2 linked regions of the Homo sapiens genome follow. The protein of the gene in region 2 binds, or shares a complex with, the protein of the main gene of each other region. Each region holds a gene or a part of one and is shown on either strand. Other genes may lie near its edges.

Region 1 (6,981 bases), on a different chromosome or scaffold from region 2:
AATCTTTACAATACCCCTAAGAGGTAGGTACTATTATTATCCTTATTTTACAGATTAGGAAACTGAGGCACAGAAGAGCCAGCATTGATTGGAACCTATGCAGCCTGTTTCAAAGTCCTTGCATTTAACTAATATGCACACAATTCATCCCAGAACCCATAAGGTGAGCTAAATGGCCTCTTCAATAATCTACTTCTGTGCTAGTTTATAAACTGCTCCAACATTAGAGCTGCATATTCCGGATAACTAGCATAGACTTTTATACTAGGTTGCTGGGTTCAGCGTCATCATTTTCCAGATGTAGAAACTGAGGCTCAGAGAAATAAAGTCGCTTGATCAAAATCCCACCTCACAAAGCCGTAAACTGTTTACCTGAATTACTAAAACTTGTCAGAGTCATACAGCGTAAACATATAGAGCCCATTGTTTAAAAAGATATTGAGATGCAAACATTAATATATTCACTATACTATGTGTTTTATACTGGATAAGGCAACAAGTAAAGGGAGTTTCAAATTTTATTTTCCATACCACTTCTTACCTATCAGTTTAGTAAAGCTTAAATGAAATCAATACTCAACACTTATTATGGGGTCGTTAAACAAGAGACATAAACCACTGGTGACAGTATTAACTATTTTAACTACTTTGGAAAGTAAATTGTCAATATACATGAAATGCTTCAGAAATGTTTATGCCATTCCACTGAGGAACATTACTCCTGGGAAAGCTTCTGTAGTAATATATAAAATAGATGTTTCCTATAGTTTTATTTGTAATAGAGAAAACTTAGGAAAATCGTAAGTATCTCATAACATATGAATAAGTGAATTACAGCATATACAAATGATAGAATTTCATGTAGTTATCAAAATATGTTTAGAAAGCTGGCAAAACTAATCTTTGATGTCAGAAGTCAGAAGAATGGTTACTTAATGGTTGCTAGAATACAACAGGAGCAAGAGAGGGGCTTTTGGGGGTAATGGTCTTGATCTGATTGCCACTTACATAGATATATTCTGTTTGTGGAAATTCATCAAATTATACAGTTATGTTTTATGCAGTTTCTGTAAATATATGTATAAGTAAAAAGTTAAAAATGTGTTATGCATAGTTTCCCAAAAAAAGAGAAACAAACTCAAAAAGTAGTAAGTAAAAGACTCAAGACACGTAATTGTAAGTGCAACAGGTTCAACTATGTAAAAAGTACATAGAACAAAGTCTAAATGGAAACATAACAAAAAAGGCTGGGCATGGTGGTTCACGCCTGGAATCCCAGCACTTCAGGAGGCCGAGGCAGGTGGATCACCTGAGGTCAGGGGTTCAAGACCAGCCTGGCCAACACGGTGAAACCCAGTCTCTACTAAAAATACAAAAATTAGCTGGGCATGGTGGCGCACACCAGTAATCCCAGGTACTCAGGAGGCTGAGGCATGAGAATCACTTCAACCCGGGAAGCAGAGGTTGCAGTGAGCAGAGATCGTGCCACTGCACTCCAACCTGGGCAACAGAGAGAGACCCCGTCTCAAAACAAAACAAAAAAACCTTCCATTTTTTTAATACTAGCACGATTTTTATTCTTTAAATCCATGGGGTCCTTGTCATCCATCTTTTTGCAAGCCATCCACTACATTTACTAGCTTAAAAGGTGGATGAAAAAAATAATGAAGCAACAACTAAACTGTTTCAATAGTAATCCTGTAAAAGGTAATTTGAAAACCACCTGAGACTAAACTGTTGGCAGGAAATATCACACTCATTTCACGTGGGCTTTCCTAAATCTGAACAACTAATAGGAAAGAGCCCCGTTTAAGTGACTTCCTGAAAATCACATGTGAATTGGTGGAGGCTGGAAACAGACACCATTTTTAGATAAAAACACAACTACTGCGGATGGCAATACGACCTCTGAATTTTCTCAGAAGACCATCAAGAGAGGCCTCAAGCATTCAAAGAAGCAACATGCAAAGCAAATATGTTACTGACAACTAAAATGAGTTAAAGAGCAATGATTAATCCCACCCCCACACCTCAAAAACAAATCAGTGAGAAAAAGATTTCTTGAACCAATAAGTTTCAAGCTTTGGCTGCTGACGTATGATTGCACATTAATACTTCAAGAAGGTACTTTGATGTTCAACTAGTTGGGTTTGGAGATGGAAACATAGGGCATGAAAATTATATTTGATATTAGCATAAGTACATCATTAAACACAAAATTATATTGGCAGAAAATCATCAAGTGGTTTAAAACTTTACACACATACGTTATCCAGGGCTTCGAGCTTCCCTAAGACCACCTTCTTTCTAGATAAAACTGAGAACGAGTTAGTAATGTAAGCTTTTATGTCAATTTAGACCTGTCTTTTCTATTCTACCTCTCACTCTTAACACTGTTTACACTCTTAATCCTGTTTACACACAGAAAATCACTTTTATTCCCGAAAACTCTTAGAAAAACCCTGACAATAACATAACCCACAACCTAGAAGGGAGGCAGCCATGAAGCAGGCGCATCCCTTTGGAACCATACAAAAAGTGACCTCTGCCAACGGGAACAGTTCAGGGTGCTTAAGTGGCCAAAGAAGATACCGACATGGCCCCTAAAGTATTAAAAGCACCTTCTTTCCAGAAGTACCTCCGAATTGCCAGGGACTTCGCCCAAAACTAGAGGTTGGTCGAAGTGAAAATCTAAACCTAAGGAGAAGGCAGAGAGTGGGATCCCGTCACAGTAGGAAGGTAAAGAAGACAGAAGTAAAGGACAGAGCGGGAGAGAAAGGACAAAAGTTCAAAATACAGGGGTAGAGGAGGGACAGGAGCCAGAAGAATGGAGCGATCTGAAAGGTGTACGTCCTACTCACTGGTAGGCCTGTTTTGGACTCCGCTGTGGGAGAGGGCGGCTGCACTTCTGCGTCCCCCGCCTCACCTGTCAGACATCCACACAGCCAGGCCTCCCCGCCCTCACCAAGCCCACACAAACCGCGCCACCGCCAGCGTCAGCCGGACGACTCTGGGGGCGTAGGCCGACACCGCCCTCCCTCCAGCCAATCTAATAGCGCTCTCATGGGCGCATTCCTGATGACGTTTAGGGGTAGGGTTAGATGCCCGTTTCCGCTTTCTTCCCACCCACTTCCGGGTCTCCTCTGTTTACGAATGTTTGGGCGCGAATTACTCTAAGCGCGGCTCTCAGAAGGGTGCAAGAAGAATCAGTGGTGAGTCGTGATATCCTTAACCGGCTGGGTGGATCTAAAGTTCAGGGATGAGTTTTAAAGCCAACGCGTTTGTGGCAGACTCCGCAGTTTGCATTTGAGGATAGCGAGGGGGGATTGCTTACGGGGAAATGCCCGATGTCCTAAAAGATCTGCCCTTAGGATCCTGAGATTGAGATGTTTGATTAGGGGGGAGGGAGCAAAGCCATGAATACTTCCTATTTCTCCCGAATCATCCTCATGGCTCATCCTCATTGCTAAATTTCTCCCGCGGGCACTAGTGAAGTCAAGTGCAGCCTTGGACATTAGTGTCTGTGTTTCTCCAGGAGTCCTACTCACTCTTGTGCCCACATAGAGGTCTAAATTGAGGTAATTGAGTCCCATGAGTATCAACAAGCTGGTAAGAAAAACAAGACAACCTAGAATGCCTCCCTCTCTCCTAAAGCATATAGTCTGGCGGCAAACTACTGTACCAGCCTTATTTCTTTTCACTTCTCCTATACACATTAAAAGCCTCGCTGGATTATCCTGTCCCTGAACACGCCAGGTTTTTTGTGTTTTTTCCGAGCTTTCCTGCCGTCCGAGTTTTACTGTTTTCCCTTGGATGCTTCATTTTTCTACTTTTTGGCTAAATATTTCAAAATGTTATTAGAATAATACTTTTTCTATGAATAATGTACAAACATACTTCCGAGATATTGCGGGGTCGGTTCCAGACCAATAAAGCCTGTCACACGATTTTTTTGGTTTCCCAGTGCATATAACAGTTGTATTTACACTGTATTGTAACCTATTAAGTGTGCAATAGCATTATGTGTAAAAAAAAATTACATGCTGTAATTTTAAAATATTTTATTGCTAAAAAATGCTACTAATCATCTCAGCCTTCAGCAAGTCCTAATCTTTTTGCTGGTGGAGGGTCTTGCTTGATGTTGATGGCTGTTGACCAATCAGGGTGATGGTTGCTGAAGATTGGAGTTGCTGTGGCAGTTTCTTAAAATAACAAAATAATGAATTTTGTACAGCAGTTGACTCTTCCATTCACTAAAGATTTCTCTGTAGCATGTGATGCTGTTTGAAAGCATTTTACCCACTGTAGAACTTCTTTCAAAATTAGAGTAAATCCTCTTAACCCCTACCATTGCTTTAGCAACTAAGGTTTTGTGATATTCTGAATTCTTTGTTGATATTTCAAGAATATTCACAGCATCTTCACCAGGGGTAGATTCCATCTCAAGAACTTCGCTCATTCATAAGAAGCAACTTCTTTTCCACTAGTTTTATCATGAGATTGCAGCAATTCAGGTACATCTTCAGGCTCCACTATTTCTCTTGCTATTGCCACCAGATCTTTCATCACTTCCTCCACTGAAGTCTTGAACAAAGTCATGACCTTTACAAAGTCATCCATGAGGGTTGGAATCAACTTTTTCCAGACTCCTGTTAATGTTGATATTTTGACCTCCTCCCGTGAATCATGAATGTTCTTACTAGCATTTGGGATGGTGAATCATTTCCAGAAGTTTTCAATTTATTTTGCCCAGATCCATCAGAGGAATCACTGTCTAGGGCAGCTATAGCTTTACAAAATGTATTTCTTAAATAATATAACTTGAAAGTCAAAATTATTCTTTGATTCATGGGCTGCAGAATGGATGTTGTGTTAGCAGACATGAAAACAGCATTAATCTCCTTGTACATCTCTATCAGAGCTCTTGGGTGACCAAGTACGTGGTCATTGAGCAGTATTATTTTGAAAGGAATCTTTTTGTGAGCTGTAGGTCTCAAAGATGGGCTTAAAATACTCAGTAAACCGTGCTGTAAACAGATGTGCTGTCACTCATGCTTTGTTCTTCCATTTCCAGAGCACAGACAGAGTAGATTTAAAAGAATAAGAGCCCTAGGATATTTCAGAATGGTCAATGAGCATTGGCTTCAAGTCACCACCCATATTAGCCCCTACAAGAGAGTCAGCCTGTCTTTTGAAGCTTTGAAGCCAGGCAATGACTTCTTTCTAGATATGAAAGTCCTAGATAGCATCTTCCAATAGAAGGCTGTTTTGTCTTCATTGAAAATCTGTTGTTTAGTGTAGCCCCTTCATCAATTATCTTACCTAGAACTGGATAACTTGCTGCAGCTTCTGCATCAGCACTTGCTGCTTCACTTTGTACTTTCATGTTATGCAGATAGCTTACTTCCTTAAACCTCAGGAACCAAGCTCTGCTAGCTTCAGGCTCTTTTGCTACAGCTTTCTCACCTCTCTCAGCTTTCATAGAATTGAAGTGAGTTAAGACCTTGCCATGAATTCGTCTTTGGTTTAAGGGCGTGTTGTGGCTAGTTTGATCTTCAATCCCGGACCACTCAAACTTTCTCCCTATCAGTAATAAGGCTGTTTTTGCTTTCTTATCATTCATGTCTTCACTGGAATAGCACTTTAAATTTCCTTCAAGAACTTTTCCTTTGCATTCACAGCTTGGCTAACTGGTGTAGTTTCCAGCCTATCTTGGCTTTTGACATGCCTACCTCACCTTGCTTAAACATTTCTAGCTTTTAATTTAAAGTGAGAGAGGTGTGATTTTTGCTTTCACTTGAACACTTAGAGGCCATTGTAGGGTTATTAAATGGCCTAATTTCAATATCATTGTGTCTCAGGGAATAGGGAGGCCTAAGGAGAGGGAGAGAGGCAGGGAACAGCCAGTTGGTGGAGCAGTCAAAACACAACGCAACATTTACCTATTAAGTTCTCTGTCTGATATTGGCATGGTTCATGGTGCCCTAAAACAATTACAGAGTAACATCAATCACCATAACAGATATAATAATGAAAAGGTTTGAAATATTGTGAGAGTTATCAAAATATGACACAGAAATGTGAAGAGTGAGCACAATCTGTTGGAAAAATGGCATCAATATAGTTGTTCAGTGCAGGCTTGCCACAAACCTTTAGTTTGTAAGACAACAACAACAAAATACAGTGTCTGCGAGGCTCAATAAAGTGAAACACAATAAAAAGAGTTATGCCTGTACATTCTTACCCATAGCACAAACCAGTTTAAGACAGTCATTCGCTCACTTGCCTCTTTATAACATTTATAAATACACATAGTAATTATTTTCATATCTGTCTCTACCTGTGCACTATCACTAAGCTGTGGTTTCCCTTGGATCTAAGAATGGGACAAAATACCTATTCATTTTTATATGCACTGTGAGTAGCCCAGAAGTGATAGAAACAATGTCTTTTGTTTATTGGATTCTTACTATGTCTCAAATACCGTTCTAGGTGGTTTATATATTCTTTGTTACATCATTTTTGCTTTACAAAAGCCTTTAATGTTAGTACTTTTATTAATCGTTTTACTAATGGGGAAAATGAGTTAATTTACTGGCCCAAAGATATACAGTTAATTAAGTGGCAGGGCTAGATTTGGAGCTTGAACAATTTACCCTCGTTGCAGGACTGCTCTTAACCATTATGGTAGTGTTCTCAACCTGGGTTGATTTTGACCCAGGAGACATTTGGCAATGTCTGGAAACAATTTTGATTGGCTCTACTCAGGGGTTGGAAGTATTCTAGCATCTGACGGTCTACGTAGACCCAAGCATGCTGCTAAACATCCTACAATACACACCACAGTCTCCACAACAAAGAATGATCCATCTAAAATGTTAATAGTGCTGAGGTTGAGAAACTTTGTGCTATAGTCTAGTGCCTCAAGTAGGTTTCATTGTTAACAGTACTTCTCAAACTCTGTTAGACCAGTTTTGCTTT
Region 2 (7,025 bases):
CATCACTCTTGACTTCGTGTCACTGCTTCTAGAGTTATCTCTTCAAAAGCAAAGTTGATTATGTCACCTCCAAAAAGGTCTCTGTCATTTGTCCACTGCCCACAAGACAAAATTTAATTTCTTGACCTCAGTTTACCTCCGGTCCAGCCTCATCTCCTATCAGTAGTTCCATATACCCTAGGCTTCTGCCTTACTGAATTTCTTAATTTTCTCTGAGATGACAGGGAAGAGACCAAGTCCCAACTCTGATTTTGCACATTTAAGTCCTCAGACTGGAAAGCCTGCCTCAACCTTCTTCAACATTTTTGTTATTTCAGACTCGGTCTTGACTTCAACTCCTCTGTGACTTGAATTCCCCAAGGAGAGTGAGCTCCTGTAATCTTGTCTGTGCCCATGGCACTTTGTTCTTTCTTTGATGTCACGTATTTTATTCTGTGAGCTCTTGAAGTGCTAGGATTAGGTTATTTAAGATAAGATAATGAACGAGGCATTGTACCTAAGAAAGTGTAGCAGGTCGAAAGATGGCCTTCAAAAAGATATGTCCACATCCTAATCCCTGGAACCTGTGAATGTGGCCCTATTTGGAAAAAGAGTCTTTGCAATGTAATTAAGTAACTAATTCTGTTACAGTAATTATGGTAATTTGTTACAGCAGCCATAGGGAACTAATATATTAATAGAAGGTTATGGTATAATGGCTGGAACATAATCAAATACTATTGTCATCACCATCAGTACCATTGCTATAGTCACCATTACTCTTATCACCTATCATGGGACCTGAAAAGTAGTATGTTCTTAGAAAATAGTGGTTGAATAAAAATACAGTTCTTGCCTGTGGGATTCCAGTCTATTGGTAGTGGTAGTGCTGCTGATGAGAATTGTGCTTAAAGGTGGTATTGAAAGAGAGCTTCCAAAGTAGACTCCCTCTTAAAGTTTTGTTTTAAATGTCTTTTTGTGTGTTTGTGTGAAAGGTGACATTAGATCTTTTAAAATTGTTTTTTAGAAACACTTTTATACATTTTTAATTGTCCTTTTAGAATAAGGCTAATTTTGTACAAATAGACATTATAATGCACCCCCCACCCCACCGCCCCATAGAGAAAAAGTTGTTGTTTTTGGAAAACTGATGAGCACTTATAGTTCTACCAGTTTAAAAAATCTTAAACTATTCTTTTTTCCCTAATAGAATGTTAAGAAGCTAAAATTAATTTCATGTTCATCGGCCTTGAAGTGCCATTTACAGGTATACCTTGGAGCAATAATTTATTCCACCATGCCACAAGGTGCTTGAAAATCAACCAAAATTTACAAATACTCATAAACCCAAACTGGGTGAGTTATATATAACTGTAAATTTTAGTTTGCTACTGGAAGAATTATTACCAGTGTTTCATAACTTGGTGTAATTAAAATAAAAGCTAAGGTTAATTGAGCTCTTACTGCATGGTAGACACTGTTCTAAGCTTTTTACAAGAATTGTCATTTTGCTCTCACAACCACTCTGCTTTCTTACCTATTCTCTTTACTCAAGAGGAAGCTGAGGCACAGAGTGGTCAAGTAACTTGCCTAAGGTTATTTTGGCTTAAGTGGCAGAGATTCATAGTGACCGCGGCTCATAACCTCTGCACTGCCCTGACTCGGCATACCATGTCAACTTTCATTTTTTAATACAATTTGAAGTAGAGAATATCAGTATATCATCATAAAAAAGATCCTTATGGCCGGGCGTGGGGGCTCATGCCTGTAATCCCAGCACTTTGGGAGGCCGAGGCGGGCGGCTCACGAGGTCAGGAGATCGAGAGCGTCCTGGCTAACACAGTGAAACCCTGTCTCTACTAAAAATACAAAAAATTAGCCGGGCGTGGTTGCAGGTGCCTGTAGTCCCAGCTACTCGGGAGACTGAGGCAGGAGAATGGCGTGAACCCGGGAGGCGGAGCTTGCAGTGAGCCGAGATGACGCCACTGCACTCCAGCATGAGCGAGAGAGTGAGACTCCGTCTCAAAAAAAAAAGATCCTTATCTAATTTCGTAGTGGTTCAAACTTTAGTGTGAATCTACAGGGATTCTGATTAGTGGGGCTGGGAATGTGCATTTTAAATAAGCACCCAGGTGGCTCTGACTATGCTTTGAGATACACCTACAGTTCACTTATGGCTTGTTTGTGTGCTTTAAGTTAGGCTACTCTTTGCATACATCTGTGTTCAAGGATGAGTCTACTGAATACAAACATGTATCTAAACTTACACCTGAAGTGCCCACCGTAGTAATCACATTTCTTTTTGTAGAGAGTGAATACAAGGCCAGCATCAGAGAGATTCATTTTTTTTTTTAACCTTTTGTATGAGCTTCAGAATCTGGTGTATTGACCTGAGGAAACTGTTAAGACGAATTTAAGAGAAAGCATAACATAAAGTTTCTACCCTAGTGGTATTTTATATATTGTTTTTATTAGAAGAAAAAGTGTAAATTCCACTTCGCAGTAGAGTAGTAGTTCCATTATTCGGGTTACTCTGAATATTAACTGTGGCCATGGAGGGAGTCTTCTCTTTTAAGTTTATTTAGTAAGAAAACTTTCACCCATTTGTACTACCAAAAACTCTGATTATGTGTGGTTTAGAATATGGGGGAAACACTAGGCTTTCAAATTTTACTACTTCAGTATTTTAGTTATATATCGAACTGGCTAACATGTTTTTCTTTCTTCTAGGGAGGTCACAATCACATTGAGCCAAAACGCATCCAGTGTTTTCTCCAGTTACAAATAAAACGAATATGCCCATGCTGCTACCACATCCTCACCAGCATTTCCTAAAAGGCCTTTTAAGAGCACCTTTCCGATGTTACCACTTCATCTTTCACTCAAGTACTCATCTCGGATCAGGAATCCCATGTGCTCAGCCGTTTAATTCTCTTGGACTCCATTGTACAAAGTGGATGCTGCTGTCAGATGGCTTAAAGAGAAAATTATGTGTACAAACAACCTTAAAGGACCACACAGAAGGACTTTCTGATAAAGAGCAAAGATTTGTGGATAAACTTTATACTGGTTTAATCCAAGGGCAAAGGGCCTGTTTAGCAGAGGCCATAACTCTTGTAGAATCAACTCACAGCAGGAAAAAGGAGTTAGCCCAGGTGCTTCTTCAGAAAGTATTACTTTACCACAGAGAACAAGAACAATCAAATAAAGGAAAACCACTAGCATTTCGAGTAGGTCAGTCTTTTTTGTGTGTTTTCTCAGTAAATATTTTTACAAATTCTCTGTATTCTGTTTTTTAAAAAAAAGTCTAAATAGTTTGCAATCGAATGGCGACTTTTTTCACAATATTTGGATGAATTTTAAATGAGTTTTCCTGGCAAATATTAGTTTTGTTAAGTTGAAAAAATTGCCATGACATTTGAACCAAGGCTATGTATTTTAAGAAAATAATATAAGATTTTTACTTTGGCAAGAATCTTGCTCTGGATCCCAGGACAGAAATATTCATAGGAAGAACTACTAGTGAGTTTACTCCTTTTTCTTTTAGTAGTCCTTCTGCTTAAATAGTTTAAAGTGAATTCCCTGTTTTGTTGTCGTATCAACTATAATTATCACGTTTGAAAATTCTGCCTCTTAGGTATTTCATTAGTCTTTCTATAGGCAAGTCTCACTTCCTTCAGGTACTTTTTATTGAGTTTCTCGGAGTGACTGTAAACCCAGCCTTCTCAATACCAAAATGTATTTTATTTATTTTTATTTTTTATTTTTGTACTTTATTTTTTGAGACAGTCTTGCTCTGTCGCCCAGGCTGGAGTGCAGTGGCGCGATCTCGGCTCACTGCAACCTCTGCCTCCTGGGTTCAGGTTCATGCAGTTCTCCTGCCTCAGCCTCCCGAGTAGCTAGGATTACAGGCATGCACTACCATGCCCAGCTAATTTTTGTATTTTTAATAGAGACAGGGTTTCACCATGTTGGCCAGGCTGGTCTTGAACTCCTGACCTCAAGTGATCCACCCGTCTTGGCCTCCCAAAGTGCTGGGATTACAGGCATGAACTACTGTGCTCAGCTATTTTTAGTCTCACTCTATCACCCAGGCTGGAATGCAGTGGTGATCATAGCTCTGACATCATGCTTGGCTCCAATATCATGCCTCCAACATCATCCTTGGCTAATTTTTTTTAGAAGTTTTTTGTAGAGATGGGGTCTCATTATGTTGCCCAGGCTGGTATCAAACTCCTGGGCTCAAGCAGTCCTCCCACCTTGGCCTACCAAAGTGCTGGGACTACAGGCATGGGCTACCATGCCCAGCCTATCAAAATGTACTTTAAGAAAGAGATCATATTTATTTATTGTCTGTATATTAGATGTTCATTTGATTTCTTGAACAATTTGACTTGGTTCTGAAATTGTTTTTGAAATTGTGCATTGTAAAACAATTTAGATATGTTTGACCAGCAGGAATTAAACAAGCCAGTTTAGGTGGAATGAGAATGTCCCACGGTGGTGAACTAGGTGATTTGAACCAACCCTCGTGCTAAAAACAACTTGTCTTGGTGGTTAAAGTGCAAAAATTTTGTGGAGAATGAGTAAATACTTTTAAAATTTCATGTTACATTACACCTTTGTCTCACAGTTTATTGGCAATGCAGACACAAAAGCCTCCTAGTTTTTAGGTTAATGGGCATAGATGCTTTAAGATAATTTCAAAATAGCTCACCAACCAATATTTATACCAGTCCCCATTTTTCAGACTTCTTAATCTTCTGCCCTTACTGAGGGATTCTCATTTTGAGAGTACTACCTTGGATGTTAATAATCTTTATGTATGGTAAACAAAGATAATAGCAAACTCCCGCAGAGAAATTCTAGGTATGACAAAGTGCCTACTTACTAAGATTTTAGAGAATCTGTGAAAAAATGTCTCAGAAATGTGTGGAATTAACTAGCAGTTCACAGATAACTTTGTAGTGCTATTCCAGTTCTTCCATCTTGATCTTATGAGGCCAGATAAACCTGTCTTTATTGCAGTTATTTTTTTCACCACCATAAGTAAAAGCAACAAATGTTTATTCAGCACCTAAAAAGGTGTTTAAGATAGTATTGGATCTGCCCCAAGAATTGTGGTAAAGAGTCAGGCATCCCATACACTATACATATTTTGAGTGTAGTTAGTTAAATGTCTATGTTTTATATATTTCATTTAACATACACTTATATGTCTCTTATGCCATGCACTGTTCTAAACATATTGCAGACATTAACTCATCTAATTCTTAAAACAACCTGAAGAGAGAGGTACTATTACTATATCTATTTTATTGCAGTGGACACTGAGGCATAGAAAGAGGTTAAGTAATTTACCCAAGATCACATAGCTCGTGGGAGGCAGAGCTAGAATGAGAACTGGCTGCGTGGCTTCAGGGTTTGTGCTCTTACCGGCCGTGCACTGCCAACTCTCCAAGTGGGGGAGTTTTCTGCTTTTCTTAACATAAATTATTTTTTTCAGAATTCAGTTTATATTCTTTGAGTTATGAGTGAGATGAAGAAAAAAGATGATCCCTTATAAATAGAAAATTGCTTTCTCAATCACTGGGAATTTCTAGAATAATGAGTTGTTTTTCCAGTGGGAAGAAGTATACAGAACTGAGGTAGGTAGAATAATTACTGATCATGATGAGAGGTGGGCAGATGTAGAAACTGAGCACATTAACAATGGAGACAATGAAGTCTGTCCAGAAAGATCTACTTTATAGTACAAAGGCAAAGCATGTTTTGTAGTTTTTAAAAGTGAATTTTGTGAACATTTGGAACCCAGGGTGTTTCCTTCCTATAGCCCCATTACTCAGGAATTAAAGAAACAGATTTTTATTTGCCATTTTAGGACATGTTGAAATATATTAATTGTGGTTTTAATACATTAGGGGAAATAGAAGGTAGTCTAATATTTTACTCAGTAAAACTGATCGTAGTTCTGATTTCATTTGTTTCATTGAATTAGAAGATCTCTTTCCACCGTAGGATTGTCTGGGCCCCCTGGTGCTGGAAAATCAACATTTATAGAATATTTTGGAAAAATGCTTACTGAGAGAGGGCACAAATTATCTGTGCTAGCTGTGGACCCTTCTTCTTGTACTAGTGGTGGTAAGTATGGCTGATTCTTTTTCAATTGCAGAGGTCTGGGGGCTTTCTGTTACAATTTAGTAGGAATTGGCACAGTTGGGTGACCTCTAACTGCTAGCTAAGTTTGGTCTCGCTAAAGGAAGGGAGTTCTGCAGAGTTAGGTGGAAGCTGAGAGAAGTAGTTTGGGAGTGTTGTACTCCTCAGAGGAGGCCAGCTTGTGGATAGCTCAGTGGGCACTCAGAAAACTGCGACAACAGGTGCCAGAAGTTGAAGATGATCAAATGCAAATTTCAGTCCTTCAGCTTCCATGCATAAGGCCAGGCCCCTCTTTGCTCCTGTTGTGTTTCCTGGCTGCATTAGCACCTGTGCAATTCAGAAAATAGGTCCTTACTCATGTGTCATTTTCCTCATAATGTTTTAACATCTCTTAAGCTTTAGAAAAACCTTACTGCTGTTTATAATTGTCAACTGTTTATATAATATGTTCAGTTAAACAGAAAGCTCTTAGAGGGGCACTGTAATATACTGCCATTCCCCTTACAGTATTTAGCATAGTACATTGTACGTTGCACAGAATGTTAAGCAGTTACTTTCTGATTTGATGTCATGAAGTCACTCAAAGTTTAATTTGCAGCTCATCAGCGATAAAATGAATATAAACTTAGTTCCCCAAAGGATCATTTAAAGAAAACAGAAAGCATACCATATAAACAGGAAAGGTTTTTTCTTCCCTTACCCCTCTTTATGATTTAAGCTTTTCATATTACAGTTACTCACTTAGCAAGTATTTGAGTGCCTACTATAGGTGAGGCATTGTACATGGAAGGTTCTTAAACTGTGTTATATAATGGTGAACAAGATACAGTCCTGGCTTTAGTGAGGTTTACATCTTATGCAGGAAACACAAACACAGGCCATTACAATAC

Evidence for each region.
Region 1: the proteins of MMAA (region 2) and MMUT are in contact, whole or in part, in a crystal structure (PDB 8GJU), measured with the Homo sapiens proteins. Residues at the interface, in NP_001362573.1 of Homo sapiens: Arg98, Ala99, Ala102, Glu103, Thr106, Glu109, Ser110, Thr111, His112, Ser182, Ser186, Gly187, Gly188, Ser189, Leu190, Leu191, Lys194, Thr195, Met197, Thr198, Ser201, Arg202, Met204, Tyr207, Ile208, Arg209, Pro210, Ser211, Pro212, Arg214; in NP_000246.2 of Homo sapiens: Lys496, Glu609, Arg610, Glu611, Gly612, Arg613, Arg614, Arg616, Ala635, Thr636, Ala639, Asp640, Gly642, Phe643, Asp644, Val645, Asp646, Ile647, Gly648, Pro649, Leu650, Phe651, Gln652, Glu656, Gln659, Gln660, Val662, Asp663, Ala664, Asp665.

Annotation. Positions count from the first base shown.
Region 1 is NC_000006.12:49,460,242-49,467,222, forward strand, and holds the start of MMUT (methylmalonyl-CoA mutase, mitochondrial precursor), read right to left. Parts: upstream 3,013-6,981; 5' UTR 2,862-3,012; intron 1-2,861. UniProt on the Homo sapiens protein: Catalyzes the reversible isomerization of methylmalonyl-CoA (MMCoA) (generated from branched-chain amino acid metabolism and degradation of dietary odd chain fatty acids and cholesterol) to succinyl-CoA (3-carboxypropionyl-CoA), a key intermediate of the tricarboxylic acid cycle.
Region 2 is NC_000004.12:145,636,366-145,643,390, forward strand, and holds part of MMAA (methylmalonic aciduria type A protein, mitochondrial precursor), read left to right. Parts: intron 1-1,234; exon of another isoform or gene 1,235-1,335; intron 1,336-2,709; 5' UTR 2,710-2,774; coding exon 2,775-3,213; intron 3,214-5,997; coding exon 5,998-6,120; intron 6,121-7,025. UniProt on the Homo sapiens protein: GTPase, binds and hydrolyzes GTP. Involved in intracellular vitamin B12 metabolism, mediates the transport of cobalamin (Cbl) into mitochondria for the final steps of adenosylcobalamin (AdoCbl) synthesis.